Linked DNA regions of Homo sapiens: region 1 is linked to region 2. Evidence: fine-mapped expression QTL. A gene starts in region 2. The other region holds a variant in brackets. All regions are shown on one strand. Distances are between the middles of the regions.

The links. PIP is the estimated chance that this variant, and not a neighbour inherited with it, causes the effect. A credible set is the group of variants that fine-mapping cannot tell apart.
Region 1: its variant is the best candidate, but not a certain one, in a credible set for the expression of BTF3 in thyroid (GTEx, PIP 0.86).

What each region holds. Positions count from the first base shown.
Region 1 is chr5:73,459,589-73,462,498 of GRCh38, forward strand. It overlaps LINC01386 (long intergenic non-protein coding RNA 1386), which reads right to left. Exons shown (of 5, transcript NR_126410.1): 4 at 1,945-2,037. Among named protein-coding and RNA genes, the nearest start is that of LINC01386, 12 kb to the right of the region's middle. The variant T/C (reference allele first, on the strand shown) is at 1,044.
Region 2 is chr5:73,496,764-73,499,673 of GRCh38, forward strand. It overlaps BTF3 (basic transcription factor 3), which reads left to right and starts at 1,679. Exons shown (of 6, transcript NM_001037637.2): 1 at 1,679-2,036; 2 at 2,371-2,439. The coding sequence starts at 1,905. BTF3-DT (BTF3 divergent transcript) reads right to left here and starts at 1,557. Exons shown (of 1, transcript NR_186388.1): 1 at 790-1,557. RefSeq lists enhancers at 1,514-1,573, 1,604-1,903, 1,667-2,477 and a silencer at 2,114-2,163.

The DNA.
Region 1 (2,910 bases), 37 kb before region 2:
AGACTGTGTTTTATATTTTTACAGTGAGCAAAAAAGCTCATATACCAACTGTCTGGTTCCAGACAAGACACCTGGAAAAATCTATGACTGACTCTTTCCCAAGGCAATTCAAGTCTGTGCTTCAAAAACCAGTGCTTTCTGCAAATCATTATTTTTGGCCCAAGGATTTGCTCTACTTTAAGATCCTTCGCTAATTTACTTATTTGTAGTAGACATTCGCTATTAGTTGCTGTAGTTCAACCTTGACCAATCTTGTCTTCACTCAGAGGAATTCGTGCCTGTTAGTTTTATTTTATGTGCAAAGTAGATTAAACATGTATTATTATCAAATTTTAGGAGAAACAAATGTTAATAAGTACTTGCTATAACAATAAATATGATTATGCTTTATTTATTGCCATTATTGTTACTACTTGAGATGAATCTTGTGCAAAATAAACTTTAAACCTGGGTGGGGCTCCCACCAAACCCAGAAAGGTATTGGTAACATCTTATTGCCCCAGTGCTTGCAGCAAATTTTCTGTAACATCAATCATTGAATAAAGATTACACAAAAGCCAATATCTTTTTGCCCTCTCTAAACCCTAAAAATTCCTTTTAAAAGTGAGTTGAAGAGACCCAGTTATCCTACAATCCAGTAGACTAATCTCCAATTGCCTTTGGAGTATTTATCACCCTTGCTGCTTCGACTTCCCTAGCCTCTTTTCACTGGTCAGCCTTCCCCCAAGTCCTGCTGCTCAGCTGGGATGCACACATCACCAGGCCAGGCTCACCACAGACCTACTGAATTAGAATCTCTACAGGTGGGGCTCAGGAATTTATTTTGCTTTGTTTGTTTTGTTGTTGTTGTTGCTTTTGGTTTTTTTGGAAGTTCCCCAGGTAATTTGGGTGATCATTTAAGTCTGATTACTACCAATCTGTGTGCTAAAATTCAAGTTCCTGAAGCTTAGCATAAAAAGGGCCTCACCTCTGCTTGACTCTACAATTGCATCTCCTACTATTTTGCACGTCATGATTACCTACCTGCAATATTGAACAACCAA[T/C]AGCTCACAACGCTAGACATACTGCCTCCCTCCTCTGGGCCCTTGCCTGGAACACCCTTTGCATACTTTGACTACTGAACAACTTATTTTCCTTCCAAAATTCAGCCCTAGTGTCTGCTTCCAGAAAGCCTTCCCTGATGACCTCACCTCCACCTGCTCTGAATTCCGACTGCACCTCGTTCCACAGCAGTCAGCACCCAGTGTGGAAATATATTAATGAAACCGCCTTTACAAAATTATGACTGAGACAGTGAAAGAAATCTAACTTAACCAACTCCATCTTGCTTCTAACCCCCAAGCTATCCTTGTTCATTCCTAGGTGTAGGCTTAACTAACTTTGGGAGAAGTTAGTAAGGGTAATAGCCCTTTCCCAAAGCAGTCCTCCTTCTTACCTGGGACTGGATTGCCTTTGTAGGACTAACATTAGCCACAAGATTAGAAATTATGGTTTAGGAGTCATGCAGCCGAAGGCTACAAGATTCTGACCCTCCCTAAACTGCTCCAAAGATCAGCGCTTGAGATATTTGGCAGACCCTGCACTTGATGGATCAGCTGGCCCCACACAGATCAATAAACTGGCTCATCTGATCTTGTGGCCTCCACCTAGGAACTGACTGAGCAAAAGAAGACAGCTCCAATTCCATATGATTCATCTCTGACCAATCAGCACTCCTGGCTCACTGGCTTCCTCTCACCCACCAAGTTATCCTTAAAAACTCTGCTTCCCAAATGCTTGGGGAAACTGATTTAAGTAATAATAAAACTCTGGTCTCCCCGCCGGCTGGCTCTGTGTGAATTACTCTTTTTCTATTGCAATTCCCCTGTCTTAAGGAATTGGCTCTGTCTAGGCAGCAGGCAAGGTAAACCTCTTGGGCAGTTACATTAATACTTGCTCACCTACCTATCTCCTCTGCTAAAGTGTGATCTATTTGAAGGCAGGCTCCATGTCATCTTCACCTCAGCATTCTCAAAACCTAACCCAGTGATACAGGAGCTAGAATGAAATTATTTAGGCAGTTAGTGAGGGTAAAAGAGTCCTCGGCAAGATTTCCCTTTTAATAAAAAGCAGTCCCCAAATCATTTATTTTCTAACAAAGGGCAGCTGCAGACATAGATAAGCAAGCTGAAAGCTTGCATGGGTGAATGCCAGCAGCTGTGCCAGTAAGAAAAGGCTACCTGGGGGCCAGGCATGTTCAACATGGAGACTCCATCTTCTCTTTTCTTTGTCAACCACATGTGCAATAAAGAAGCAGGCAACATGGCGCTGGCCAAGTAGAGAACCCATTCAAATAATATAGATTACGGTGGGGTGGCCAGCTTCTTTGCCCGCTATGTAAATGGCACACCTGGTCCAACCAATCTTTTGGGCCCTATGTAAATCAGATACTGCCTCCTCAAGAGTTTTTCTCTTTCTTTTGCCTGTTAAACCTCTGCTCTTAACCTCACTCCTTGTGTGTCCACATCCTTGATTTCCTTGGCATAAGGCAACAAACCTCAGGTATTACCCCAGACAAATGATGCCACTTCATCAGGGCTGGATTGAATTAGAATAAACTGGTTTTATGGGAATATGCAGTGTGGTCCTTTATCAAGCAGTTTAAGTCTCCTTTGTAAGAGCCATTGGATATTATTGTACTCAACCAGGCTGCTGAGTGTTTTGTTACTCTGCAGGCCCTGAAGTGGTCAGGAAGATTTTCTTTCAGTGTTGAACACAGTACATGACAAGTTGCAGTAGCTCATGCTTATAATCCCAACACTTTGGGAGGCCAAGGCAGGTGGATTGCTTGAGCCCAGGAGTTCAAGACCAGCCTGGGCAACACAGCAAAACCCCATCTCTACAAAAAAACAGAGTCTCTTTCTGTCACCC
Region 2 (2,910 bases):
CTGAAGGATCCTTTGAGCGCAGGAGTTTGAGCCCAGCCTAAGCAACAAAGTGAGACCCCATCTCTTTTAATTTTTTTAAAGTTTTATATTTTTTAAAAAAATTATAAAAATAAAATTAGCAGCATCCCTGGTTTCAAAAAGTAGAAATAAATAAATAAATAAAAGTAGCTCACAATATTTCCTGAAAACAGGTGTATTAAAAGGGCAGAGGAGAGGGAAGGCAAAGAAAAAGAAAAAAAAGGTGGCAGGTTACATACATACAATCTTGTCTCTATAAAAGCTCAGAAAACATCACGTGACTAGGAAGTTTCAAATGCCTCCAATATAACATGGAGGAGAGGAAAAAAACTGTTCCTGGACAAAGATACACATTTCTTCCAAAAGGGGGAGTCTTTCTATATATTTTGTAATATCTCCAGAGCACAGCATAATGTTGGTACTGCCATTTTGGCCTTTGTCATTAGGAAGGTAACCCACATAAGCCTAACTACAAACACCCTTACCTGTACTAAAACTTCACTCATATTTAACTGAAGCAACATTGTTTTTTGTAAATATAACTGTAACAATTATTCTAAAAGGCAATACAGCTGTCCTCACCAGTTATGTTCTTGAGACATCAGTTGCAACAAACTTATATGTAAAAAGTATTCAAAAAGTTTAAACATTGATCTTAACTGGAGAGGGGTCTGCACTTGAACAAGTTTTCTTGCTACACACATTGCATTCTAAGATTTCGGACTCACTTTTGAATATGCAAAGACATTTCATGGTTAAGACCACAAAAAGGCTGATCAGAGAACATTTTTATTTAAATTGCCATTTTAAATATCAGTCGTTTTATCTTAAAGCTTGTCCTGGGTTTAACAAAGTTTAACTCACATCCACGCGTTGTCTCTCCAAACACAGCAGGCAGAAATTCTCCTTTGATTGGATTAAGATAGATAAAGTCTGCTTAACCGTGAATCGCTAATTGTCAAATCCATGCCAATTCGGTACCTAGGAGTCAATTTTTTTGCCTGATAAACAAGATAATTGTGTGGACCGTTTTAAGGTGGTTAGTCATCTGCTAAATTGGCTGAAATGCGGATTACCCAGTTCCTTCGTCGTACAGAGTTGCATTCTGAGGAGTGGGGCTCGGGGATACAGCCCCCAGAAATTCTGAACCTCGGTCCCGCAATCTACCACACCACCTAACCTTGGAAGGCCAAACTAACTTCACTATTTTTGACAAAATGCTTTGGTAATGGCTCATTCGGGCCGAGAGGGAAATTCTGCAATTCTCCAACCCACACCTCCAGCAAGGGGAGAGCTGCTTGAGTGGTGAGCACAAGCTGGGCACCTCCGGCGTCTCCAGGAAACGTGAATAGGCCCTTTCTTCGGAGGGCACAGAACTTCAGGATCAGGGCCCAATGGAGACTGAGCGGACTTAACCCTAACTGTGCACAGGACCGCGCTCTCCGACCCCTTTGTGGCCTCTCCCAGAGGTACGGGCTGCGCCCCAAGCCAGCAGTCTCTCGTAGGGCCTACAGCCGGCAGCCGCTGGAGCAGGAGGAGGAGAATAGGGACTCGCTGGACCATCACAAACGCTGTCGCGCGTGCGCAGGGAGGAACCGAGTTCGCGGCGAAGTCAGTTTCCTGACTCTTGAAGGAAGTGGCCTTGTGTCACTTCCGGCCTCCCTTTAGCTGCCATCTTGCGTCCCCGCGTGTGTGCGCCTAATCTCAGGTGGTCCACCCGAGACCCCTTGAGCACCAACCCTAGTCCCCCGCGCGGCCCCTTATTCGCTCCGACAAGGTACAAAAAGGCTCTGGACGGCGGCGTGGTAGGAGGACGGGAGCGGGGGCGGGAAGTTCCCTGAAGGAGCGAGACAGGGAGGGACAGGGCAGAGGAGGAGAGGAAGGCGATGCGACGGACAGGCGCACCCGCTCAGGCTGACTCTCGGGGGCGAGGTCGAGCCAGGGGCGGCTGCCCTGGGGGCGAGGCGACGCTGTCTCAACCTCCACCTCGCGGCGGAACCCGAGGACAGGAGCCTCAGGTACCGCGAGGCTTGCGGAGAGTGGCCGGGCCGGGCAGGCCCTGGCTAGGCCGAGGCCAGGCCAGGGCCAGGGGTGGGGGGTGCTGGCCAGGCGTGGGGTAGAGCCTTTCATCCGGGCCTGCCAAGAGCGGGGAGCTGTGGGGGAGTGGTGGGGAGGCGGGTGCTCTTTGGGCTCCCTGGAAACCCAAATTTGGAGCTTTGCGGGGTGGATTTGGGATCCAGGTTTCGGCCTGTGTAGGACGTTTATTTTCCTGCTGGTATCTTGGGAAATAACGAGCATGGAATGCTAGAGTGAGCTAAACCTATCCTTGCTGAGGATTTCCTCTTTTTCTAGATGAAAGAAACAATCATGAACCAGGAAAAACTCGCCAAACTGCAGGCACAAGTGCGCATTGGTGGGAAAGTAAGTTTTAATAGTTCGGGTTTGTGGGTTTTTTTTTTAAGGTTTAGGTATTTTAAAAAACATATTCCTTTTGCGCTTCTTATATTATCGGTGACAAACTTTGCCTATCGAGGGAAATTCACGGAGCTAGCAAATCTCGAGGAGCGGGGGAGACGAGGGTTGGAGACACATCAGTGAGACGAGCTAAAAACATCGCCTTTGTGTAAACATGTTTGTGTTTTCAGTGTTACAGAGTGTAAGTAGAACACAAAAGTGTTTCCTAATTTAATTAGTAAGGAAAATGTGTCATTTCAGTTAGATCGTTGTGCACATCATACCCTTGACTTGTTTTGGCCTGAGTTTTCTAAAGTCAGTGCTTGTTTGTCTCTCTTGTAAATTGAGACCTTTCTGTACTGCTTTCTGAACTAAATATTCTTTAGGGTAGTTGCATATTTCAAGGGTATTTGAAGATACGGGTACATTTTGGAGTTT